Homo sapiens: one gene and its partners. The protein of the gene in region 4 purifies or fractionates together with the protein of the main gene of each other region. This does not show direct contact. Each region holds a gene or a part of one and is shown on either strand. Other genes may lie near its edges. The genes, in order: DDX6, ATXN2, ATXN2L and MCRIP2.

Region 1 (7,030 bases), on a different chromosome or scaffold from region 4:
TTTTCCAGTCATCACCAGGTCTAGAGAGAATACAGTAAACTTGAAGTATCAAAATTCATAGCATCCTAACAAAGATGATTCATCTCAATTATAATTAAGTGTTAAAAAAGCACAGTAAGTTTAATATATTCCATTTAATATATCTAACAAGATAATTAAACAACTTTAGAAAAAGTGTTCTTATAGAGAATCTCAGGAGGATAAAAAAATCAAGAACAGAAGGGATTAAGGCATCCATCCTCTTAAGCAATATTGTATACAGTGTAACTGTTGTCAAAAGGTGTTTTGTTTGACCTACACAGCATGTGTTTTAATTTAAATGAGTTTAAATTAGTTCTCAACATTTAAAAACTGTAAGATTTTATATATCTTATATAACTCCTGGGCTCAAGAAATCCACCTGCCTCGGCCTCCCAAAGTGATAGGATTATAGGTGTGAGCCACCATGGCCGGCTATTCTCATTTTTAAAATAGGTTAACAGGCCAGGCGTGGTGGCTCCCATCAGTAATCCCAGCACTTTGGGAGGCCAAGGTGGGCGGATCACTTGAGGTCAGGAGTTCGAGACCAGCCTGGCCAATATGGTGAAACCCCACCTCTACTGAAAATACAAAAATTAGCCAGGCATGGTGGGACACAACTGTAGTCCCAGCTACTCGGGAGGCTGAGGCAGGGGAATCACTTGAACCTGGGAGGCGGACACTGCAGTGAGCCAAGCTCACGACACTGCACTCCAGCCTGAGTGACAGAGGGAGACTCTGTCTCAAAAATAAATAAGGTGGGCGCACACCTGTAATCCCAACACTTTGGGAGGCCAAGGCAAGCGGATCACCTGAGGTCAGGAGTTCGAGAGTAGCCTGGCCAATACGGTGAAACCCACTCTCTACCAAAAATACAAAAATTAGCCAGCCATGGTGGCATGTGCCTGTAATCCCAGCTACTCAAGAGGCTGAGGCAGGAGAATTGCTTGAACCCGGGAGCCAAGATCCTGCGCCAGAGCAAGGCTCCGTTCCAAATAAATAAATAAAACAAAATAGGTTAACAGTTACATCAAACAATTGATATAATGCACTCAGCACAGTGCCTGGCAAAATAATAGCACAGTATTAGCCAATGAGCATCTCTTAATCTTTCTTTTTTATTGGAAATGCTAGAAATCATGAAAGAGAATAAAAACAAGGAGAATATAAATAAACTCTCTTTTTGGCCAGGTAAAAACCTCAAGTAATAAATACTCAAAGCATCTTTAAAAAAAAAAAAAAGATCAGGGAACATCTGCAGACAAAGTATTTAACTGTGACATCTTCGAAAAAGTTTTCACTGCAGCTGTTCTTACATAACCAGAGTCCCCAAAACATCTCAAATGCTCCATTCACAGACAAAAAGACCACTTATTTTACTTAAAACTAGGTCCTACATAATGCATACTCTAACATTGGTAACTTTTTGCTACCAATTCCAAGACTACTACTGTACTAAAGCCTTTTTTTTTTTTTTCTGAGATGGAGTCTTGCTATGTCACCCAGGCTAGAGTGCAGTGGCATGATCTCGGCTTACTGCAACCTCCACCTCCCGGGGTTCAAGCAATTCTCCTGCCTCAGCCTCCAGAGCAGCTGGGATTACAGGAGCTTGCCACTACACCTGGCTAGTTTTTGTATTTTTAGTAGAGACGGGGATTCAGCTGGTCTCAAACTCCTGACCTCGTGATCCTCCTGCCTTGGCCTCCCAAAGTGCTGGGATTACAGGCGTGAGCCACCTCACCCGGCCTACTAAAGCCTTTCATCTAAGCCTGTATCATCGAAGTTTCTGATGTCAGTTTGACATACCGTTGAATTCAACAAAATAGTGAATAATAATGCGTAAGATACAATGCAAAACCTGACCACAAGAAATTTATAATCTTATGAGATGAAAAAACTATTTAAAATGAGAAAGTAAGTGACGGAGGTTAAGTATTAGAAGTGTTCTGAGACACTTGATGGGATCTAGAGGACTTCATGGAAGAGAGGGCAGAGAAAATGAGATTTGAAGAACCGCAGAACTGAAAAGAAACCATTAATCGTAGGAAAACCAGAAAAGAAAAATCAAAATCCACTGTTGTCCCCAAATCAGAATTTATTTTTTATTTCTTTGAGATGGGGTCTTACCCTGTCACCCAGGCTTGAGTGCAGTGGTGCGATCATAGCTCACTGCAGCCTTTATTATTTGTAGAGACAGGGTCTTGCTATGTTGCCCAGGTTAGTCTCAAACTCCTGGCCTCAAGTGATCTTCCCACCTCAGCCTCCCAAAGTGATGGGATGAACGGCATGAGCCATCATATCCAGCCCCAGAATTTTTTAAATAGAAAATATTCTCATAGGCCAGGTGCAGTGGCTCACGCCTGTAATCCCAGCACTCTGGGAGGCCGAGGCAGGCAGATCACCTGAGGTCAGGAATTCAAGCCTAGCCTGCAAACATGATGAAATCTCATCTCTACTAAAAATACAAAAATTAGCCAGACGTGATGGTGGACACCTGTAATCCCAGCTACTTGGGAGGCAGAGGCAGGAGAATGGCTTGAACTGAACCCAGGAGGTGCAGGTTGCAGTGAGTCGAGATCACACCATTGCACTCTAGCCTGGGCAACAGAGTGAGTGAGAGTCCATCTCAAAAAAAAAAAAAATTAAAAATAGGCTGGGCGCAGTGGCTCACATGTGTAATCCCAGCACTGTGAGAGGTCGAGGTGGGCAGATCACTTGAGCTCAGGAGTTCCAGACCAGCCTGGGCAACATGACAAAACGCCGTCGCTACTGGTGCATGCCAGTAGTCCCCACTATTTGTAGGGCTGAGGCAGGAGGATCACTTGAGCCTGGGAAGTTGAGGCTGCAGTGAGCCATGATCGTGCCACCATACTCCAGCCTAGGCAACAAAGTGAGACCCTGTCTCAAAAAAAAAAAAAAAAGTTATAAAAAAAATTAAAAATAGTCTAAATTTTGCTAACCTACTTACATTCTGCCAAGACAAACTACAACTGAAGTAGTATTCATTTCTATACCAATTAAAGCATTCACCTTAAAAATAACAGAATATACACTAATACCAATTCTCCCAATGACCTAACCAATTCTGCTGAAAATTAGTTCTTAGAGGTCCTAGTGAACCACATACGGTAACTATATGACAGTCTGGTAGCTTGTATAAGCTATTTTTCTGTAGGAAGTGAAAAGATCTAGGTTGTAATAAAACATATACCTCAGTTCAGTAACCCAGTGTCAACATCTTATAAAGATTCCCAGGGTTAAATTATTTTATATGGCAAGTTTTTTTTTTTTTTTGAGATGGAGTATTTCTCTGTTGCCCAGGCTGGAGTGCAGTGACACGATCTTGGCTCTCTGCAACCTCCACCTCTCGGGTTCAAGTGATTCTCCCGCCTCAGCCTCCTGAGTAGCTGGGATTACAGGCGCATGCCATCACACCCAGCTGATTTTTGTATTTTTAGTAAAGACAGGGTTTCACCATGTTGGTCAGGCTGGCCTCAAACTTTTGACCTCGTGATCTACCTGCCTCAGCCTCCCAAAGTGCTGGGATTAAAGGCGTGAGCTACCGCACCTGGCCTTTTTTTTTTTTGAGATGGAGTTTCGCTCTTGTTGCCCAAGCTGGAGTGCAATGGTGCAATCTCGGCTCACTGCAACTCCGCCTCCCGGGTTTAAGTGATTCTCCTGCCTCAGCCTCCCAAGTAGCATTATGGGCATGTGCCACCACGCCCAGCTAATTTTGTACTTTTAGTAGAGACGGGGTTTATTTTTAGTAGAGACAAGGTTTCTCCATGTTTGTCAGGCTGGTCTCGAACTCCCGACCTCAGGTGATCCGCCCACCTTGGCCTCCCAATGTGCTTGGACTACAGGCGTGTGCCACTGCACCCGGACCTATATGGCAAGTTCTTAACAAAAGCCAAACATCAACTGGAGTCAAGAATCTTAAATGTTAATTTCCTATAACTGAATCTTTAAAGTGATGGTTACCATTCAAATATTGTAATTTAAACTATGCACTTAAAAGTAACAAATAGCCTACATACTTTCAGCTTTAAAAGAAAAAATATCCTCTAGTAAGAGGAGGCTCTTCAATTTTAAGGTTAACAAAAGGTTTCTGAGACTGTTCAGAACTGTGTTCTGTGAGTTCAAAATTCTTAGTTCCCTTTTTATATGTAAAAGGAGGAAAAAAATTAAAAATTTTTTTTTTGGGTAGAGACAGAGTCTCATTATGTTGCCTAGGCTGGTCTCAAACTCCTGGACTCAAGTGATCCTCCCACATTGGCCTCCCCAAAGTACAGGGATTACAGGCATGAGTCACCTCAACCAGCCAACTTTTTTTTTTTTTTAAAGTAAAAAAGCTAAGTTCCATAAGCTAAAAAAAGTTACGAGAAAATTTTCTGAGTGAATAATGCTTGGAGTTCAGAAGGCTGGGCAAGTCTTTAAAGACTCTAAAGACTCAGACTGAGTCTTTAAATTTAATACATAAAGTTGGCTTTATCTGCTGTTTAACTAGGGTAAGGTGCAGTCGTAAAAAAACTATACTGACAAAAACGAGATGACTAATAATTTTATTCATTTACAACAAACTAAGCTAATAACTTTTACACTAATTATGAAAGCCAGAAATGTTTCCAAAAACCATTTATACAAAATTTGTGTGTATCATCTGACCTCAGGATGACTACTTGCTGAACAAATTATGGCAGAAATATATTATTCTATTGCAAATACCTACTGGCCATAAAACAAAGTCATCTGTCCTCTATTTGGAATCAAAATGGTTAAATTAAGGCATAAGTATTAATAGTCAACACCAAAGTAACACAAATCTTGGTTCCCCACAAGTGTTTATTAATAATTTACTCTAACACTTACTTAATAGTGGTGGTCATACTCTGTGCTTGCTGCTGAGTGCCATTATTGATTGTGTTGGTGTTTTTCAGCTGGTTCATCTGTTGCTGTGTCTGTGTGCCCCCTCCTCCAGGGCCACCAGTGGGTTTCACAGGGCCTCTCAGCTGACCATTTTGACTGGACAGACCCATTATAACAGGGTTCTCTGTTCTGGCCGTGCTCATGCTGTTTTAATTGCAAAGGTCTTTCAAACTTCAAAACTTTTGAAAGTCAGTAGAGAAACTGTAATAACAGTTTATTAGGCTCTCCAAAATGAAGAGATAAATATAAGTCTTGCTCAATAAATGAGTCCTTTATTGCAATGCAGGCAAGCACCTGTAAGTCTCTGAACGGTAAGCAGCAGTAACTTGCTCTCTTGCACGGAATCAACTTTTTATTTTTAAAAAGCCCTCTAACAAGCTTGAGTTATATCTGAATTCACTCACGTCAATCTGAAACAAACAAACAAAATTAAATTAGCAAACACAACAGAAAAACTTTGTTTCCCTTTTAAAAGAACCCCTTTAAAAGAATTCTCATCTTTTATATTAAAGAATTAATAATACAGCTACACTTAGACCAAATCACGAGCCAAGCTAGGATAGACACAACTTTGAACTATCTCAAAAACACAATGAGGCCAATATCAAACATTTAAAATTGTTAATTCAAAGCAATCCAGAGATTAAGTAGAAAGAGACTAGTAAATTAGCACTACTCGTCAATGATAATCTCTTCTCTTCAGTTTCCTCCCCATGAATTCTCTAAGTCTCTGACATCTCTAAAAGTCAGTGATTCATTATACTTAATTGCATTACAACTCACTGAAGTATCACACAATTTAAACAAGACAATTCATTAATTTTCTTCTACTTGTAATAGCAACCGAGAGTCCTTATAGATTTAAGTGAGCTTTTGACTTGAACTTCACACTTCCAGAAAAAAACACCTTTGTGCCCTTACAAATTTCAACTATTAAACTTTATGGGCTGGGTGCTGGTGGCTCAGGCCTGTAATCGCAGCACTTTGAGAGGCCAATGCGGGCGATCTCTTGAGGTCAGGAGTTAGAGACCAGCCTGGACAACATAGCGAAACCCCATCTCTACTAAAAATACAAAATTTAGGCCGGGTGCAGTGGCTCATGCCTGTAATCCCAGCACTTTAGGAGGCCGAGGAAGGTGGATCATGAGGTCAGGAGTTCAGGATCAGCCTGGCCAAGATGGTGAAACCCTGTCTCTACTAAAAATACAAAAATTAGCCAGGCGTGGTGGCGAGCGCCTGTAATTCCAGCTACTTGGGAGGCTGAGGCAGAGAACTGCTTGAACCCAGGAGGCGGAGGTTGCAGTGAGCCAAGATTGTGCCACTGCACTCCAGCCTCAGCGACAGAGCCAGACTCCGTCTCAAAAACAAAAACAAACAAGAAAAAAAAAACAAAAAACAAAATTTAGCCGGGCATGGTGGTGCACACCTGTAATGGAGTCCCAGCTACTTGGGAGGCTGAAGCACGAGAATCGCTTGAACCTGGCAGACGGAGGCTGCAGTGAGCCAGGTGACAGAGACCTTGTCTCAAAAAACAACAAAAAACTTTAAGAAGAAAAATGTATTTTCTTTTTTCCTTTTTGTCCTTTAAAACAATAAATGAAGCAGTCAAGAGAATAGTGTATTTCTGCCATAATGCATCCAGCAAGTAATGATCCCAAGGACGGATGATATACACAAATTTTGTATAAATGAATTTTTATTTTGAAATTGACAAAACCAAGATGACTCTAATAATTTTATTCATTTATAACAAACTTAGCTAATAACTATTCTAATTTTAAATTTAAAAAAACAGGAAAATTCCTGTTTAAAAAAAAATCCGCGGAAGACTAAACACACTAGTAATTTTAAGAAAACTTTCCAAGAAATCCAGAGTAGTAAAGCTAATTAATAGTTTAAAAAAAAAAAAAAGAACTGGTAGGAGGGGCACGGTAGCTCACGCCTGTAATCCCAACACTTTGGGAGGCCAAGACTGGTGGATCACCTGAGGTCAGGAGTTCAAGACCACCTGACCAACACGGTGAAACTCCGTTCCACTAAAATACAAAAATTAACTGGGCGTGGTGGCCCTGTAATCTCAGCTACT
Region 2 (4,632 bases), on a different chromosome or scaffold from region 4:
ATACTCGCTCTTCCCTTTGTCCTCCCCGTTGCAATCTGGGAATACTAACAAATGCTTATGAGTCCATCCATGTCAATAAGCAGCTTTGTACATCTTTGTATCTTTTCAGCCTTCATGCCCTCTGGATTTCTTTATTGCAATTTTTTTCTGAGTGTCTCCTGCCCCCTACTGGTAAAGTAGAAAAATGCCCGAATTGGGAACTTCCAGCTAATGACACTCATTTTGGTTCAGGAGATATTAAAAAGGAAGCTTACAGAATCGGTGTCAGCCCGAGGATGTGGAATTTCAGTGCTGCCCAACTCTGGCCAACCTTCCTCCTCCTGAAGCAGATCTCTAATCCACCAAAGAGAATAGCTCAGTCTTGTCTTTTTCTAGAGATACCTTGAACCAGAACTAAGGGTGAAGAAGAAAAATCATTTCACAGCTACCTTCCGGGATATTCAAAATGCACCCTTAGCACACCTGCTTTGATATTAAGTATCCTACAAAGAAGTAGCTTATACAGACACACACTAACTTGATCAGTTTTTAAAACTTTTTTTATTTTTTAAATTTTTTTTAAGTTTTTATTTTATATTATCTACAAAGTAAAAGTTTTTCCCTTAACTTAAAAGTTGAACCACTGTAGACAGTGATCACCTCATCAAACTTGATTTATAAATAATAATCCGTCAGTTTGACGGTAAGAATTTACTGAAACTTTGTCAAGTTTAGTAAAAGGGCGTTCCAAGTCTTGATTTTTTTTTTTTTTTTTTTTTAGCAGTAATAGCAGCAAGAATCACTCTTGTTACTTCTTTTGCTAGCTGATGTGTTCATGACTTTCAAGGGTTATTAAAAAATAAATAACTTCCAGTTTCGGCAAGCAGAGCTGGGGTACCTGCGGGACTCTGAAACAGCATATGGAATTATGGAATAGCCCCCAAGTTCCTAAATGCCTCTACTCGGTCCAAGTATCTTCCACTGCAAGTGAACTGTTAGCATTCCTATTGGATGTTACAAGAAATCAACATATATATTTTAAAAACAAAATAAATGAAATTCTAGTTTTCTGTGCTTCCAGTTGGTAGAAGCAGTAGAAGGGAGGAGGGAATTTGGCCTTTCGGTTCCTCCAGGGCAGCCTTACAACTGCTGTTGGTGGTGGGCTTGTACTGTAAAAAGAAAAGCGAACATTGAAACAGAAAACTGGCAACACCACACATCAGCCTAGTGTCTCTGCAGCACATGATTGTAAACTATCCTCGTGCTAGCTGAACAAAACTCAAAATTGAATTCGCTTTTCCCCCTCCCATCTGCACCAAAGTGGGGAGGGTTGGGTGGGTGGGTAGAAACAAACCAGTCAGACGTAAAACCACTTCAGATAAAACTCCCAGAAGACTTGTTCATGGGGTAGAAAAAAAGGCCTTAACAAACCCCCTCCCCAAATATTAGCCAAGCACCAGTATTGCTTTCAGAATAACAGGTCAGACTGTGAAGTATCGCCATGGCAGCCATCAAGTAGTAGAGCACAATCACAGGGCGCTCTCCCCTGTTCAGGGGCTGGGGCTAACGCTACACTCAAAGCCAGTCCATCCACAGCGCTTTCTCAGCAGTATCTTCTCCAGAGCTACAATCAAACTCTGCCATGGTAATAACCCCCCACATGTCAGACTTTTGGGACTCAGGAAGGAAAACACTGCCCTGTCCAGCCTGTCATAACAAGGAAGGCCAACTGAGTCCTAGGCATGCATCAGGCTGCTGTTGCTGCTGCTGCTGCTTCTCATCAAGCCAAATCCTGTATACCATCAGAACACACACAGACTCGGCTCCCGGAAGCCTCAGGCCCTGATGCTGAACTGATCGTCACAGTCCCTCCTGTGCACACTCCTGGACGGGTCTTGCTAGTTCTCAAATGCGGGGCTTGAAGCACTGGCCCTGCCTGCCATTCCACCTGTGCGAGCAGAATGCTTTGGGGTGCCCCGGCGGCCCCTGCACACACACGCCTCACCTGAAGGGTGCGTCATATAGGGGAAATGCGCTGTTGTCGAGACTGGAATGGGCTGTAGTGCACTTTGAGCGAGGGCGGCCTGGGGACCGCCGGGTGGCTGTGTCGTCATTAGCATCATTGGCGCATGGGCAGTTGGATGAGAAGGAACCATTCCTGACTGTACATGAGCCTGAAACAGAGAGCTCTTTTACGCATACAGGCAACATCTCCGGCTTCAACAACATGTCAACTGTGTTCCTTTCACTGGGCTGGGACTCTCAGGAAAGGGCAACGGTGGGCCTCAGGGCCCAGTTCTGTTCTCTGGGGACAATCTCTAGTAGATTATCTATTGACCTGAAGACGCGCTTCACCTTTGGGCAGATCCTGCAAGGGTCAGGGAGCAGGCAACAAGTGAGCCTGGGTAGAAGTCAGGGCTGTGCTGTCCTAACCCTTGACATTTCTGATCATTGTATTCTATGTATGGGGTAAGATCTTCACAAAGATTAGACACTGGATCCAAGGGCAGCTTTCTCAACTTAATATCATACAAGATTCAATGATGCTTCAGAATCAGGCTGCCATGTGGGGCCTGAGGTAGTTTTGCAGATAACATCCCTTTCAAATAGGAAAACAGATTACATTAATAAGCAGAGACTGTCACAGTCAAGTATGTGAATTACTTGGACCTCTGTTCATTTGCCTCTCTCCCTCTGCTTCTGGTCTGCTCACCAGGCAGTGAAAAGAGACTCTTAGGCCCCCGTGACTCTCTCAGAGATATGCTGATGGAGCAGGAGGAGGAGGAGGAGTTGGAGTTTTTAATGGCTCCAGTGAGATGGAAAGGAGTAACCTGAAGTCATCTGGGCCAGCCCAGCGTCTCTGTACCAAGTTCAACCTGGTCTCACTCACTGTCAAGTTGGAAAGGTGATTTTAGTCAGCCCAAACAGCTGGATTCCAGCTCTGCAGGGGGTTGGCAGGGCCAGGAAGAGCCCTTGTTTCCTTTTTCCCACACTGTGCACTGTTCTAGACTACGATAAGCCTTGGATGAAATGCCGTTTTTACTCTCACATATTCAAACGGGCACATGGCAAATTTGAGCTTCCCTGTGTTAACCTTTTTGCCCTTTCAGCACAAAAACAGAGTGAGGTTTTAGGGATCCCTGACTTACATGTAAGTTCACATGCCTACTTAGCCACCAGCCTCTGGTAGACACCTACAGGACCCCAGCTCTTATGAAGCTGACTCCACCAAACCACGCTGGCCCACACGGACCAAACCGGCTTCCCTCCCCACTATCAAAAAGCAAATCAACTGCAGTGCGCTACACCACAGAACCTAAACTTTGCAGGGTGAGGACGCCCAAACTTCCCAGAGCTGTGGAACTCTACTTACAAGGTAGCCTTCTGAGAGATAGATCCAACTGAGTCGCATCTCTAGCCCACACCTTGCCAGAGCCTCACTGGCGCACTATTTAACAGGAAATGGAATTCATTGTGGCAGGTCTCACTTAGACCCGCCTCAGAGAGTTCTGTTATGAAAGTAGCAGAGACATCTAATACAGCCAATTCACCCGTAACAGCCCCAGGGAGGGCCTCAAGGCCAGCGTTAGAGCCCAACTTCAGTGCAGCTCCTTCTCCTCATTAAGACAATCCCCTGGGCCCTGGAGTGCAGGGACCTTTGTCAGCAGCTGATGCAGACAGCAACCACTGAGATGGCAAGCACACCTTTCACCTGTAGCAGCTTACACTGGAGGTGAGCTCCAAAGTGCTTCCAGGGCTGCTCTTAAAGAAAAATGGGACCACCTGGGTGCTTCCAGCTTCTAGTTACACTGCACCAATGTCCAAGGCCAAGCCCTCTCAAGAGTACAACTTATGGTCAAAGCAGATATATGGATAACCAGGGAAAACAATTGGAGAGATGTGTCTGGAACTCATGTGAGTAACAATCAAGTTGACAGGCCCCGGTAGTCACTTCGGAGAGCTGAGACTCTGTGAAGGCCATCATCCCTGCCTGGCTTCCAAGGTAAGTGTGTAGGGGAATATATATGTACACATATATATAGTAGTGAGGCTATATAGACATAGCAAAGCAGACACAGAAAGGAAAGAAGGACTGGGTTGCATTCCAGAGTCAAAGATATTTTTAAGGTCTCAGTTGGAAAACTAAAGGACTGACCAATCAGCACCTTCACTGATCCCATGACAAAACCACACAAACATTCCCTTAGGGCCAGATCACGTGTATTTGAGAGGGAAAGGGAGACAGGCAAATGGCATGACACACAGGGTTTCCTAGCTGGGAGAGCCTCTAGCTGCTTACTGATAACCTTCACATTCTACTTGGCCTTCACAGAAAGTTGGCTAAAGCTGGTATTACCTGAGGTACGTGGGCCATGTGGGGTGGGTTGGTATACGCCGGCTGAACGTGAGAAGGATGGATCGTAAAGACAGTCTGTTGTGCTGCTGGGAAACTATTCTGTGGCGACTGCGTGTTGGAGGCAGGTGTCATGGAGGGTGGAGTTGGCGCAAGCCCCGCGTGGTAAATGGCTGACTGCTGCTGTGGACTGGCCAGATGGAGAGCCTGGGCGGCCTGGTGCTGATGGTGCTGCAAAGCGACAGGAAAGAATTGAGAGGAAAACTTCTTTAATGAAAAGCAGCCAAGGGATACCCACA
Region 3 (7,643 bases), about 28 Mb from region 4:
CTCAAATTTGTCTTTTTTCCCTGCAGCACTATTCAGCACAGGCCTACAGAAACAACTAAAGGCATACTCTGACATCACCCAATTGACACCTTCAATGAGCCTATTTCATTCTCCTCCTACTCTGCAACTCCAAAAATAATTAAATTTGAGTACACTGACCTTTGAGCTTAGCGTCTTGAAGATACCCTCATAAGTGGTACCATTTTTCACCTTTACATCACAAGTGGAGCCCTGGCAGAGTGGGAAAAATAAGAAGAGTGTCTCCAGAAAGTAGATGCATTACGTTCCTTAAACAACCCGGGGGTTAAGTACCAACTTACCACAACAGCTGTAAGGAAATGCAGCATTCTGGAATTGTTGTAGACGCCTTCAAACACCTGTCAGTTAACATAAGAGGGAGAATTAAAGGAGTAATCAGTCAACACCTCATTTTCTTTTCTAAATGCCCGCCGCACTCTACTCATTCTGCCTTGTGTGTGCCGGGCCCACAGCCCTCCTGAGTACATTAGACTCTATCTAGACCTAATGTGCCCTATATTCCCACATTATGCATCTTTTAGGTCTATGTATCTTAAACAGGGTGGGAGAAGACACTCACAGGTGACTGTGGGGGTCCCTTTCCTGTGCTCTGTCCCCTATAAAAGAAAACAAGAAATTACTTAAGTCTGTTCAAGCCCTCTTAGACCACTATGAAATTAATGTTAAATCCTAGAAGTATATACCACCTGATGATGCTGATTTAGACTACAAAATTGTTAATCAGTAAGATTTTTCTATTTTTTTTGAGACAGGGTCTCCCTCTGTTGCCCAGGCTGGGGTGCAGTGGCGTGATCTCAGTTCACTGTAGCCTCAACCTCCAAGGCTCAAGTGATCTTCCTGCCTCAGCCTCCCGAGTGGCTGAGACTATAGGTACGAACCACCACTCCTGGCTTTTTTTTTTTTTAATTTTTAGTAGAGATGGGATTTCCCATCTGTGTTGCCCAGGCTGGTATCGATCTCCTTGGGCTCAAGGGATCCTCCCACCTTTGCCTCCTAAAGTGCTGGCATTACAGGCGTGAGCCACTGCGCCCGGCCAATAAATAAGATTTTCAAACTGTCACCTTGTAGAGGAAGAAAAAAATAGACATTAATAAGCCAGCAAACACATTTCCTCCAAATGCCAGCAAAAAGATCTCAATCAACAATGGTTGTCAATTGCTCTAAGAACCAACGAGAAAGGGGCTAGGGCTGCAGGCTACCAACAGATCAATGCTACAGTATTAACCAAAAAGCCACGCCAGCTGTGAGGGCAAAAGCTCCAGGAGTGCAGCTTTGGAACTACCTAGCTCAGGTACATTACCTCCCAAACAGAAAAGACAATCATTTTCAGCAGCCTGACGCCTCAAAACTGTGGGAGGAGGGGTATCCCCTCCACACCCCATCCCCTCGACCTCATGACTCATTCAGCCCGTTACCCACTCTGCGGGGATCACCAATCGCCAGGTAACCCTGCTCGTCGCTGGCTGATGTAACCGGCGGTTGAGGGCGAAGAGGGGGCCGCTGGCGGGGCTGGGGGACAGCGCAGCCGCAAAAGCCATCCACCGGGAGGCCTCGCCCGGTCTGCGCCTGCGCACTAAAACCCACGGGACTTTCCGAACCCCCACCTCCAGCGATCAGAGCCCACTGCGCCTGCGTGTGCTGCCACTCTTAATTCCATTAACACACACACACTCGCACAGGAAAAACTGAGCAGGGCCTCCACTACTCATGCACTGCCACCAGACGAGCCCCTCCACGAACTAGTCCCTGCCCTAGGTGTTCCCGGGGCGCGCGAATGCCCGGGTCATGAGACCGAGCATCCACGCGCACGTACGGGAAGGGGGCGCGCGCGCCAGAGGCTCCCGGCCCGCAGTCCTCCCAGTCATCCCTCCTTCCGTCCCCCCGCCCACCTCGCTCCCCTCCTACTGGCCAGACCGGGAAGGGGGAGGCAGCAACCCGCTCCCAAGTCCCTCCCTCCCCATTGGCCAAACTGTGGGCCGCGCGCCCCCCTCCATTGGCTACGGCCGGGGACCCCTTCCCGCAGCAGACTCCCCATTGGCTGAAGCCGGGGACCGCGAGACCCTTCGTGGTAATGGAACCGGGGACCCCGATCAGCTCCTTGCCCCCCCCCAACTCCCCGTTCCGACGGCGCCGGCGGGATGCGCCCCGCCTCCCCTGAAGGCCGGGGCTGCGAGCCCTGACTAGGCCCCGAGAGCCGAGCGCGGCCCCTCAGTGCTCCGGTGGCCGCCCGGGGACCCTTTCCGTCCGACCTGTTCGGACCTGAGGGGGCCCTCCCCCAGCTTCACGGGGACTCCCCACCCAGCCGGTGCCCCTGACGGTGCCGGGTCGGGGTCCGCCCCACCGGAACCGAGCCACAGCCTCTGGGTGGCCGCGGCTCCCTCGCCCGGAGCCCACCCTTCTCACCTGGCGCTGCCGATGGCGGCTGCCCCCGGCCTCTCCTGGTGTTGCTGCGGCGGCGGCGGCTGCGGCGCCAAGATGCCTTCGGCTCCCCGGCGGAGCCCGCTCCCGGCAGCGGCCACAGGCCCCAGGCAGGGGGAGGCGGCCGCTGGAGGCCCGGGAGGAGCCGCAGAGGTGGCCAGCGGCCCCGGGAGGCCGCCGTTGGGAGGGCTGGTGCCCCCGGGGGGCCGACGGGCCACGGCCTGTTGCGTGGGGGGCGGCTGCTGGGGCTGGGAGGGCTGTTGTAGCGGCTGAGGCTTCAACATGATGGCAGCGTCCGGAAGGGGAATTAGAGAGAAGGGAGGGAGAGAGGGGGCCGGGGCTGGGGCCCCGCTGGAGAGCGCGGGAAGCGAGGGGGATCGGGCAGCCGGGGCCCGCCGTGGGCGGGCGGGGGGAGCCCCGCGGTGTCGGGGGTGGAGAGAGAAGACCGCGGCGCGAGGAAGCGCCGCGAGGCGGAAGGGGAGGGGGTCTCGCGGCTGGAGGAAAGCGAGAGGGCGCGAGCCGGGCTGGCGCGCGTGCGCGTCGCCGGGGAGCGGAGAGGGAGGAGCGCGCGGGTGGGAGCTCCCGGGGGGGGGGGGGGGGGGGGGGGGCCAGGAGCGAGCAGTGGCGCGAGGTGCCGCGCACACCGGCGCGGTTAGCTCCCGGCGGGAAAGTGGGAGAGAATCAAGTCGGTGAACCTCGCACCCCTAGCCCTGGGAGTGGGTAAGGAGCGGCGCGGGCGCTCACGCGCGCCAAGGATTTAGGGTCTTAAGGTCTCAAACCGCCTTAGAAGCCGGCGGCCGCTGTCGCTTCACAATGAGCGTGTGAGGCGCAGGGGGAGGAGCCGAAGGCGCCAGAGGAAGGGCCGGCCTCTCCGCCCACGCCGTCGCTGCGTCGCGATGCCTCCGCGGGAGTGTGAGGCGGCACGTCGTGCGTGAGGCTCTTCCGCCACTTGGCGGCCCGTGGGCAGAGCCTTAAGTGCCAAGAAAGTCTCCGGGACTGGACCACCCGAGCCACTGCGCTTTTAGGCAGGTGGTAGGTTTCGCAAGGAGCTACCCTCCACCTTGTTTGCTTTAAGTAAAAGACTGATGAGCATTAGTGATTCGTTTGAGCGTGTTGATCTTTGCAGATAAATTTACGCCTCGTCCTAAATTATTTCAGATTTTTGTGATTTTGACCTAAATTGTTCCTCCATGCCCGAGAATGAATCTTTAAACTGTAATAACAAAGACTGAAGGCCAAAGTTCCGAGTTCAAAATCCTCCACCCGACCCTGCAATGAAGGCAGCTTCATTCATTCAAAATGAGTTGGGCATTGGAGTATTCAGTTAGTTGTTTTGGACACAAGGATAATTAAACTGCTTCCTGCTCTGGAGGAGTTCATGCTAGTGGTGAATTCAGAGAATTTGACGAGATCTAGTAGGTGAAGCACAGAGGACTACAAGAGCAAATGGGAGTGACACCTAATCTTAATCCAGTTTTGGGAGACCCAGATAAGGGACAGGAGGGCCGGGCGCAGTGGCTCATACCTGTAATCCTAACATTTTGGGAGTCCGAGGCAGAAGGATCGTTTAAGGCCAGGAGTTTGAGACCAGCCTAGGCAACAAAGTGAGACTTTGTCTCTACAAAAAAAAAAAAATTTAAATTATAAAAAAAAACTGATAAGAGGGCAGGGGGAGATGGGTTTCTAGGCAGGGAAATAGGATATGACAAACTAAGAAAAACTCAGCTTGTCCTAAGCATAAAATTAAAGGGGGGAAGAGGTAGCTAATCTGGGATCAGGTTTTAAAGGCTCCCAAGTCTTGTAAGAGACACGGACATTATCCTCAAAGCAGTGGGGAGCTTATTTAAGAAAGTGAAAAGAGGCTGGGCATGGTCTGTAATCCCAGTACTTTGGGAGGTTTGAGGTCAGGAGTTTGAGATCAGCCTGGCCAACATGGTGAAACCCTGTCTCTACTAAAAATGCAAAAATTAGCTAGGCGTGGTGGTGCATGCCTGTAATCCCAGCTACTCAGGAGGCTGAGGCAGGAGAATCACTTGAACCAAGGAGGCGGAGGTTGCCGTGAGCCCAGATCGCACCACTGCACTCCAGCCTGGGTGACAGAGCAAGACTCCTTCCCCCCAAAACAAACAAAAAAACAAGTGAAAAGAGGTCAGATTTGCATTTTTAAAGGTTTACTCTTTGCAACGTGGAGAATGGAGTGGAGCTGTTAAGTCCATGTGGTCTTAATCCCAGCGAAACTCTCAATGTCTCAATCTCTTCGCTCTAAATGTTAGCATTGGAACTCTTCCCAGCCCCTGCACCAAACACATGCACACCTAGCTACAACACTGCCTTACTTTTTGGGTAATAGTCCTTCGCCCTGCCTCGCTCCTGCCTTCAGATGTGCTAGTTTCCCCTCCTGTGTGCTCGCCGAGCAATTTATCCCACTGTATTCTAACAGCTCCTTTAATTCTGTCTTCCTGCTAATGTCAGCTCCCTAAGGGTTAGGATCTTGACTTATTTCTTGCTCTGCAGTACTCTAGCACACTGCAGGCACTCAATGAAATATCTGTAAGGTGAGTGGATCCAAATGATGTTTTTTTGTTTGTTTTTGAGATGGAGTTTTGTTCTTATTGCCCAGGCTGGAGTGCAATGGCGCGATCTCGGCTCACCACAACCTCCGCCTCCCGGGTTCAAGCGTTTCTCCTGCCTCAGCCTCTTGAGTACCTGGGATTACAGTCATGCACCACCACACCCGGCTAATTTTGTATTTTTAGTGGAGACGGGGTTTCTCCATGTTGGTCAGGCTGATCTTGAACTCCCGACCTCAGGTGATCCACCCGCCTCGACCTCCGAAAGTGCTGGGATTACAGGCATGAGCCACCACGCCCAGCCCAAATGGTGTTTTAAAGGTCATCATGTCTCCTGGGTTCCCTAACAAACACAGTCCAGCTTTTTCCTGGCATTACCTGGACCACCTGATGCCATGCCACCTCTCTACCCTCATTGACAGATTGTGAGCACTGAGCACTCTAACCCCCTTCCATCTACCCCATCCTGCTCCACACTCAAATTCTGAGTTTTAGCCCCATGAAACTTCTTTCTCCATAGCTTGCCTTGCCCTTGCTAGTGGCAGCTAATTTGCATGGGGTCTACAGCAACCTCAATTCTTGCCTCCTCAGAAGAAAGAATTCCACCAAGGGGCATAAGGCAGAGGGAGAGACAGAGGCAAGTTTTAGAGCAGGAGTGAACGTTTATTAAAAAGTTTTAGAGCAGGAATGAAAGGAAGTAAAGTACACTTGGAAGAGGGCCAGGCGTGAATGACTTGACAGATTCAAGTCCCTGGTTTGACCTTTGACTTGGGGTTTCATATGCTGGCATGCTTCCAGGGATTTACGGTTTGCATCTCTTCTCCCCTGATTCCTACCTTGGCATGGGCTGTCCACATGCACGGTGGCCTGCCAGCACTTGGAGGGGCCACAAGCACAGTGTGTTCAGTATACTGAAGTGCACATGCTCACTTAAGACGTTCTTCCCTTACAGATCTAGCATTCCTGGAGGAAGGGCATGTACCATTAAACTCCGCCATTTTGCCTCTTGGTGCATAAGCTTGAGCCCATTTACCCAACTTCTGAGATCTTATCGAGAAGCTGCTGATCATCAGTTTCAAGTGTTTTCCATCTATTTGGAGACTGCCTTTCCCTGGTGCTGGCTGCAACCAATTACTATTTTAGAGACAAGTTTAACAACCACCTGACCATCACCTGATGGTTGCCTAACATTCCTGGTGGTGGGGTTGGGGCAGCACTCCTGCCCCAACAATGGGAATGTTGTCTTATCGTGTGCAATTTAAAAATTATATCACTATGGCCAGGCTCAGTGGCTCACGCCTGTAATCCCAGCACTTTGGGAGGCCGAGGTGGTTGGATCGTGAGGTCAGGAGTTCGAGACCAGCCTGGCCAATATGGTGAAACCCCGTCTCTACTAATAATACAAAAATTAGCTGGGTGTGGTGGCTCACGCCTGTAGTCCCAGCTACTCGGGAGCCTGAGGCAGAAGAATCGCTTGAACCCGGGAGGTGGAGGTTGCAGTGAGCCAAGATCATGCCACTGCACTCCAGCCTGGATGACAGAGCCAGACTCCATCTCATAAAAAAAAAAAAAAAAAAAAAAAGAAAAGAAAAAGAAAGCAAACTTCAAAAGACTGTGCTACCTTTTGTATACTGTGCTACCTTTTGTATAAGGAAGAAGGGGAAATATGAAGACATAAATGTATCTGCAGGTTTTTGCCAAGAAAAACAAAGTATAAACCAGAAACTCATCAAATTGATTACCTGTGATGGGGGGATGGGGGAAAATGAGGATTGCTTGAGCTCAGGAGGTCCTGGCTGCAGTGAGCCGTGATCTCGCCACTGCACTCCAGCCTGAGCGACAGAGCGAGACCCTATCTCAAAATAAAAACAAAACAGACAGTATGGGGAAAATTGATAAATTTGGAATATAGACTACAAAGTATTGCATCCATGATAAATTTCCTGAATGTGTTATGACTCTACTGGAGATATGGAAGGATGTATTCTTTTTTGTGGTTGTTGAGACAGGGTCTCGCTCTTGTCACCCAGGCTGGAGTGCAGCAGTGGGGTCTTGGCTCAATGCAGCCTCCACCTCCCAGGCTCAAGAGATCCTCCCACCTCAGTCTCCCAAGTAGTTGTGGCTGGAACTATAGGTGTGCACCACCACGCCCAGCTAATTTTTTGTTTCTTGGTTTTTTTTTCTTTTGGTAAAGATGGGGTTTTGCTGTGTTGCCCATGCTGGTCTTGAACTGCTGGCCTCAAGCTATCCACCTGCCTCTGCCTCCCAAAGTGTTGGGATCACAGATGTGAGCCACCATGTCCGGCCAGGGTGTTTTTTTGTTTTGTTTTGTTTTTTGTTTTTTGAGACAGAGTCTCCCTCCCTCTTGTCACCCAGGCTGCAGTGCAGTGGTGAGATCCCAGCTCACTGCAACCTCCGCCTCCTGGGTTCAAGTGATTCTCCTGCCTCAGCCTCCCGAGTAGCTGGGATTACAGGCGTGTGCCACCACGCCTGGCTAATTTTGTATTTTTAGTAGAGAGGGGGTTTCTCCATGTTAGTCAGGCTGGTCTTGAACTCCTGACCTCAGGTGATCCACCCTCCTTGGCCTCCCAAAGTGCTGGGATTACAGGCGTGAGC
Region 4 (6,902 bases):
TGACCCTCTGGGTGCACCAGGAGATGTGCAGGGACCCCGACACCCCCCTCCCGCGCCCAGTCAGTGAGAGATGAGGAGTAGCAAAAAGCACCAAGGAGAAGAAAAGGCAGGGCAGGGCCGGGCGCGGTGGCCCACACCTATAACCCCAACGCTTCCACAGGCCAAGGCGGGAGAATTGCTCGAGCCCAGGAATTGAATACTACCCTGGGCCACATAGTGAGACCTGTCTACATAAAAGTTAAAAATGAGCCAGGTGTGGTGCTCGCCTGTCATCCCAGCTACTCAGGAAGTCGAGAGGTGGGAGGATCACTTGAACCTGGGAGGTTGAGGCTGCAGTGAGCCATGATTGCACCACTGCACCCCGGCCTGGGTGACAGAGCAAGACCTTGTCTCAAAAAGAAAAAAATTAAATGAAGTAAAAAACAGCGAGGTGGGTGGCAGCATGGGGTGGGGTGGTTCAGAGGGAAGGTGGTTGGCCAAGCACGGTGGTTCACGCCTGTAATCCCAGCACTCTGGGAGGCCGAGGTGGGCGCATCACCGGAGGTAGGGAGTTTGAGACCAGCCTGACCAACATGGAGAAACCCTGACTCTACTAAAAATACAAGATTAGCTGGGTGTGGCAGTGCACGCCTGTAATCCCAGCTATTCGGGAGGCTGAGGCAGGAGGATCGCTTGAACCCAGGAGGCAGAGGTTGCGGTGAGCGGAGATCCTGCCATTGCACTCCAGCCTGGGCAACAGAGCAAAACTCCATTTCAAAAAAAAAGAAACAGAGGGAAGGTGGTTGCCCCAAGAAGGTGCAGGAGCAGGATGGGGGCTTCATGCAGAGATCCCACTGCTGCCAGAAGCTCCCAGCGCTGGGGCCTGGGGGTGGGAAGGTGGGTGACCCCAGGGAGGAGAGGGCAGCACACATCCTGCCCTGCCCAGGGCTCCTCTAGCCCCACTGCACACGGGGTGAAGCCCACTCAACTCCCACAGGTCCCACTGGCTGACAGAGGACCTCACATGGGGACTTTAAGAAAACAGGCCGGGCGCGGTAGCTCACACTTGTAATCCCAGCACTTTGGGGGGCTGAGGCGGGTGGATCATGAGGTCAGGAGATCGAGCCCATCCTGGCCAACATGGTGAAATACAAAAATATAAAATTAGCCGGGCATGGTGGCACGCACCTGTAGTCCCAGCTACTGAAGAGACTGAGGCAGGAGAATCGCTTGAACCCGGGAGGCAGAGGTTGCAGTGAGCTGAGATTGCGCCACTGCACTCCAGCCTGGGCGACAGATGGAGACTCTGTCTCCAAAAAAAAAAAAAAAAAAAAAGAGACAACAGCCAGTGGGCCTGGTGTTGCCCACTGGGACCCTTGGGGTCCCATGGAGAACTCTGGGAAGCATTTCCATCTTCTTCCCTAACTCCTCCTAACTGTGCCACAGCCTTACCCCTGCCCTCCCTAGCAGTGGGGTCTTGGAGAGAGAAGAAAGGTGGTTTCCCCAGGTTAAGAGAGACGGCGTCACCCTGGGCCACTCCAGCCTCATGCTCCCTGCCTGGGGACCAGGTGGTGGCTACAGGTGTGCCTCGGTTTCCTCCCCTGGGAAGTAGAGCGGCCACGAGGACCAAGGGTGATGTCCGCGGAGCGTCCCAGCAGAGCTGGGATGCTGGAAGCACCTAGGGGCCCACTCACCTCCCGCCAGAAGGCGCCTCTGGTAGAGGGCACTTACCTCACTAGGATGGAGCCCCAGAGAGCCCCCGCCCCGCTGGAACCTCCACACCTTTCTGAGAGGTAGGCAGGGGGCAGGCTGAGGGTGGCTCGGCACCCCCCCACCTGTAGCTGCCCTGAACTCCTGGCCCGAGCTCTCCTCCCCAGCACCGCCTCAGGCCATGACCCTACCACCTCCAGGAGCCTTCGGGCCGGCTTGGGGCCACAGCAAAATCCACAGGCCTGGGAGAGGCACAGGATAAATGAAGGGAACGGTGGAGGAACTGAGCCAAAGTCAAACGTCCAGCCCTGCGGGGCTGTCCAACCTCTGGGTCATGGTCACGGGGAGGCCACAGTGGCCGGACTGAGGCTCCTGTGGTCTCGGAGTTTCCTAACTGGGTTAGGAAAAGCAGAAGCAACCGGATGGGGGGAGGCCCCACTGCCCCAGGGTGTCTGGGGTGAAGGGCGGAGGAGGGCAGCGGCCCTGCCCGAGGGAAGCGCACGCACGTCTCCCCCACTGAGCTCTGCAAGGGCAGAGCCGGGAGATCTTGAGGACCAGCGCCCGACGCTCTCCGCGAACCGTGGCCTGGGCCTGCTGCACGTCAGGGTTCCAGCAGCAACCCAAGGTCGCCCGAAGCACCGACCTCGGACGCTGGAGGCCCCTGCGACCCAGGAACTGGCCGGCTTTCTCCCCGCTGGGGGCCCGGGCCCGGCCAGGTGAGGCGGAAGTGCGAGGCGCAGGCCCGCGGGCGCGTAGTGGGCAGGACCCGCGCACCCCCCGCGCCCGGAGCGCCCGCCCCGCCTGCAGCACGTGGCCGGACCTCACTAACATTTCCCCAAGGTCACCCTCCGCTCTAGGGCGGCCGGCGGGGGAGGGGAAGCCGGGCCGGGCCGGGCCGGGGCCGCGCGCGTCTCACCTCGACAGGGGCCAGGGTCCCGGCGGCTGCGCAAAGGGCTGCGCCCGCGGGGGCTGCGAGGTCGGCGGCGCGGGCTGCCGGCATTTCAGGAGCTCGCCGAGCCGGCCCTCCACCTGCTGCTGCGTGGGACCTGCGGGCACCGGGGGGCGGTCAGCCGCCGCCGCGCCCCGCCCCGTCCCCGTTCCCGTTCCCCGGCCCGTGCGCACCTGTGCGGCGCTGCGCGACCAGCTTGCTGGGCCCCTTGGTGATGGTGTACATGACGCGCCGCTCCCACACCGCCGCCGGCCCCCGGCCAGATCCGGCCCCTGCGCCGGGGCTCGCACTTAACGGACTGCGGGCGCCGCGGGGAGGGGGCGGGCCCGCTACACGCCCCCGGCCCTTAAAGGGCCCGCACGGGCTCGGGCTGACCCCGGACACGCGGCGGAGGCGGCGCTTGCGCCCTTTGGGAAACTGGCAGGCGGGGGCGGAGCCGCCAGCAACCCCGCCCCAGCCCCCGGAGGCCCGAGGCCAAGGCGGACGAGGCGCCCTGCTGCCCGGGAAGGCCGTTGCTGCCTGGAGGCCATGTCAGTGTCGGGGCACCGCACTCAGACTGCTGGCGGCGAGGACCCAGGGGCCCTGCGGGGTCAGCGGCGATGTGCGAGCAGGGTCCTCGGAGCCCCAGGGCCCACCTTTGACAAGCGCTGGAGGAGAACCTGTGCTGGGGGTCCCTGTGCTGGGGGCATCCCTGTGCTGGAGGTCTCTGTGCTGGCGGGATCCCTGTACTGTGGGGGGGTCCCTGTGCCTGTGCTGGGGGGCTCTGTGCTGCGGGCCCTGTGCCGGGGGCATCCCTGTGCTGGGGGGATCCCTGTGCTGGGGGGCCCTGTGCTGGGGGCATCCCTGTGCTGGAGGTCTCTCTGCTGGGGGGATCCCTGTACTGGGGGGGGGTCCCTGTGCCTGTGCTGGGGGGCTCTGTGCTGCGGGCCCTGTGCTGGGGGCATCCCTGTGCTGGGGGGATCCCTGTATTGGGGGGCCCTGTGCTGGGGGGATCCCTGTGCTGGAGGTCTCTGTGCTTGGGGGGATCCCTGTACTGGGGAGGAGTCCCTGTGCTGGATCCCTGTGCTGCGGGCCCTGTGCTGGGGGGATCCCTGTGCTGGGGGCCCTGTGCTGGGGGGCCCTGTGCTGGGGGGATCCCTGGGCTGGGGGGGTCCCTGTGCTGGGGGGCCCTGTGCTGAGGGGCCCTGTGCTGGGGGGATCCCTGTGCTGGGGGGGTCCCTGTGCTTGGGGATCCCTGTGCCGGGGGGCCCTGTGCTGGGGGGCTACTCTGTGCTGTGGGTCTCTGTTCTGGGGGCTCTGTGCTATGGGGGGTATCTGCGCTGGGGGCTCTGTACTGGGGGACTCTGTGCTGGGGGTGTCTGTGCAGGGGGGCTGTGTGCAGGGGAGCTCTGTGTTGGGGGCTGTGTGCTGGGGGACTCTGTGCTGGGGGCGTCTGTGCTGGGCTCCTCTGTGCCGAGGCTGGAGGCAAGGATTTACCATTCATACTTGGGGAGCCTCAGCCAAGGTGCCTGCAGAGGCCTGGGCCAGTGTGAAGGGTCACCCTTGGCTTGGGTCTTGGGACTGGGTCTAAGAAGAGAAAAAGCGGCTCATCCCCCTGGACTTGGGTAGAGACATGATGCCCTGGGAGTCTCCCTTCCACCCCAGGAGTCAGAACCCTGGCTGCACTCTGCCCCACGTCCTGGCCCCCAGGCTGAGGTGCACCCAGAGGCCCGACGTGTGCCTCTTCGGCCCCTGGGGCTCCTGTACCCGCCCCACAGATGTGAGAGTGTGGCAGGCCAGGTCTCACTAACGCAGGCCTCCATAACAATTATTTCAGTGCAGAGTGGTTAGTTCAATATTAAAAGCTTAAAAAGCTGTCCAGGATCGGTGGTTTACACCTGTAATCCCAGCACTTTGGGAGGCCCAGGCAGGTGGATGACCTAAGGTCAGGAGTTCGAGACCAGCCCAGCCAATTTAGTGAAACCCCATCTCTACTAAAAATACAAAAAAAAAAAAAAAAAAAAAATTAGCCAGGCATGGTGGCAGGTGCCTATAATCCCAGCTACTCCAGAGGCTGAGGCAGGAGAATCACTTGAACCTGGGAGACAGAGGTTGCAGTGAGCCAAGATCGTGCCACTACACTCCAGCCTGGGCAAAAGAGTGAGACTCCGTCTCAAAAAAAAAAAAAAAAAAATGCCGGGTGTGGTGGCACACACCTGTAGTCCCAGCTACTCGGGAGGCTGAGACAGGAGAATCACTTGAACCCAGGAGGTGGAGGTTGCAGTGAGCTGAGATCACATCACTGCACTCCAGCCTGGGCGACAGAGCAGGACTCTAAAGAAGAAAAGCCAGTGCCCTTCTTCAAAGGCTGGAATGTAACAAAAGCCCACCAAGAGCTGTGCCCAGGCCTCTCCTGGGCCTTGAAGCGCGACAAGATAACGAAGGAATTCTTAATAGGACCCGTTTAGGATTAAACAAGTTTATTGGAGGTCTGAAGAAACTCTCCAGGCCTCCACAGACAAGTTTATTGGGAGCCCGAAGGAACTCCCCAAACCTTCATGATTTAGCAGGAAACAAGATTAAGTCAGTTTACTGAGGCTCCAGGGGAAGGTCTTCAGGACTCAGGCCTTAATTATAGATTAAAAGAAGTTAATCACTTGGCCGGGCACGGTGGCTCACGCCTGTAATCCCAGCACTTTGGGAGGCCGAGGCGGGCGGATCACGAGGTCAGGAAATCGAGACCATCCTGGCTAACACGGGGAAACCCCGTCTCTACTAAAAATAGTGAGCCCAAGATCGTGCCACTGCACTCCAGCCTGGGCAACAGAGCAAGACTCCGTCTCAAAAAAAAGAAAAAAGAAAAAAGTTAACCACTTATGTCTTCAGATGAATGCACACTTACACACAGACATCTAGGTTGGAAGGTACATAACCTCTGGAAAACTTTGTAATTTGACTTGTTCTGGTGATAATTTCCAGGCCTTCTCCTTGTAACCGGCTGCAGAAATAAAAACCCTCTTCCTCACCAGTTCATCTGCATCTCGTTACTGGGCCACGAGAAATAGCAGCCCGACTCTCAGTTTGGTCCAGGAACAAGAGGAGGCTGCCTGTGCCGGCATCAGGGCCTGGCGTGTCCAGTGGCCCCCACATTCTCCAAGGAGAGGTCAGGGATGCTGTGGCTGAAAACGGAGCTGTGGCGGGTGGGCGGCAGGGCCCAGAGTCTTCCTGTCTAAATTTCCAGGCAAGCAACATGCACCACATGGAGGGGTGAGGGGAGGCCCTTGGTGGTGGGGGGCCAGCCCGAGGAGCCCCCACCCCATGCACTGGCCCTGCTTCTCCTCCCTTCTGGGAGCTCCAGACTTACTGGGAGGCCCTCAGGGAAGCTTCTGACCCAGGTGTCTCTTGGCCCTGTACCCCTCCTCAGCATGGCTGAAGAGCGGAAGGAAAGAGGTTTCCATCCCCAGCTGCCTTCTCTGCAGGGTTGGGCCAGGCCTGTGGCCCTCAGAGGGCAAAGGAGATGGCAAGCCACAGCCAGGGAGGCCAAGCCTGAGACGCCCCCTAGGAAGGACTCCTCACGGACTCTTTTCTACCTCCCACCCCCACCCCTGCCCCCACCTTCCCCACTCCCCCAGTTCCCCTCCCCCCACCTGGCTCTGCCCTCCCCCCACCAGCATCGGGCATCGTGTCCTTCAAGGAAGGCCAGTGTGATCCCCGTCATCTGTGCAGCCTGCGTCCTGCCCTGGCTTCTCCCAGTGGCCTTCAGCGCAATCACTCACACAGGCCAGGGAGGCAGGACGGGGTGCTGGGGGGCCTGTGCACAGCCTGAGGGCATATGCTCCTGTGGAAGACCTGGCAGCAAGGACCAGCTGAGTTAGAGTGAGGGCGGTGCTGGGGAGGGAAGCCCCATGTGGGGAAGGGCATAACCCGAGCTCACACAGGCTCCCGAAGGCGGCCCCCCACCTTTGGGGCCCACTGCAGGCGGCAAGGACAAGCTGGGCTGGCCCAGAGCTCAGCAGAGCTAGCGTTTGCTTCAGCCATTGGTGGTCAAGCCACGAGGCCCAAACATCCAGCCCCAACAATAGGCCATATCTGAAGTCAGGCAACACTAAACCTGCCATGCGCTGGGCACTGTAGGCAGCTCCTGAACGCAGCTCCATTCAAGGGGGGAAGCAGGGAGGCGCAGAGAGACTGATCTCGGGCTCCTCTTTCCTGTGCCTAGGGAAGCCCAGGTGAAATCTGGGTGAGGAGAGGTGCATGGGCCCCAGGAGAACCACTGGTCATCATA

Evidence for each region.
Region 1: the proteins of MCRIP2 (region 4) and DDX6 purify together in Homo sapiens (co-immunoprecipitation; 5 studies listed by BioGRID and IntAct, with this or other methods). This does not show direct contact.
Region 2: the proteins of MCRIP2 (region 4) and ATXN2 purify together in Homo sapiens (co-immunoprecipitation; 3 studies listed by BioGRID and IntAct, with this or other methods). This does not show direct contact.
Region 3: the proteins of MCRIP2 (region 4) and ATXN2L purify together in Homo sapiens (co-immunoprecipitation; 2 studies listed by BioGRID and IntAct, with this or other methods). This does not show direct contact.

What each region holds. Positions count from the first base shown.
Region 1 is NC_000011.10:118,781,165-118,788,194, forward strand, and holds part of DDX6 (probable ATP-dependent RNA helicase DDX6), read right to left. Parts: intron 5,355-7,030; 5' UTR 5,088-5,354; coding exon 4,888-5,087; intron 21-4,887; coding exon 1-20.
Region 2 is NC_000012.12:111,451,693-111,456,324, forward strand, and holds the end of ATXN2 (ataxin-2), read right to left. Parts: intron 4,565-4,632; coding exon 4,337-4,564; intron 3,428-4,336; coding exon of another isoform or gene 3,353-3,427; intron 2,154-3,352; coding exon 1,985-2,153; intron 1,149-1,984; coding exon 1,120-1,148; 3' UTR 522-1,119; downstream 1-521. UniProt on the Homo sapiens protein: Involved in EGFR trafficking, acting as negative regulator of endocytic EGFR internalization at the plasma membrane.
Region 3 is NC_000016.10:28,818,358-28,826,000, reverse strand, and holds the start of ATXN2L (ataxin-2-like protein), read right to left. Parts: upstream 3,003-7,643; 5' UTR 2,742-3,002; coding exon 2,443-2,741; intron 2,108-2,442; exon of another isoform or gene 1,959-2,107; intron 1,877-1,958; exon of another isoform or gene 1,578-1,876; coding exon of another isoform or gene 1,459-1,577; intron 636-1,458; coding exon 599-635; intron 378-598; coding exon 321-377; intron 232-320; coding exon 160-231; intron 1-159. UniProt on the Homo sapiens protein: Involved in the regulation of stress granule and P-body formation.
Region 4 is NC_000016.10:637,953-644,854, reverse strand, and holds the start of MCRIP2 (MAPK regulated corepressor interacting protein 2), read right to left. Parts: upstream 3,028-6,902; 5' UTR 2,864-3,027; coding exon 2,812-2,863; intron 2,736-2,811; coding exon 2,606-2,735; intron 2,602-2,605; exon of another isoform or gene 2,510-2,601; intron 1,802-2,509; exon of another isoform or gene 1,711-1,801; intron 1-1,710.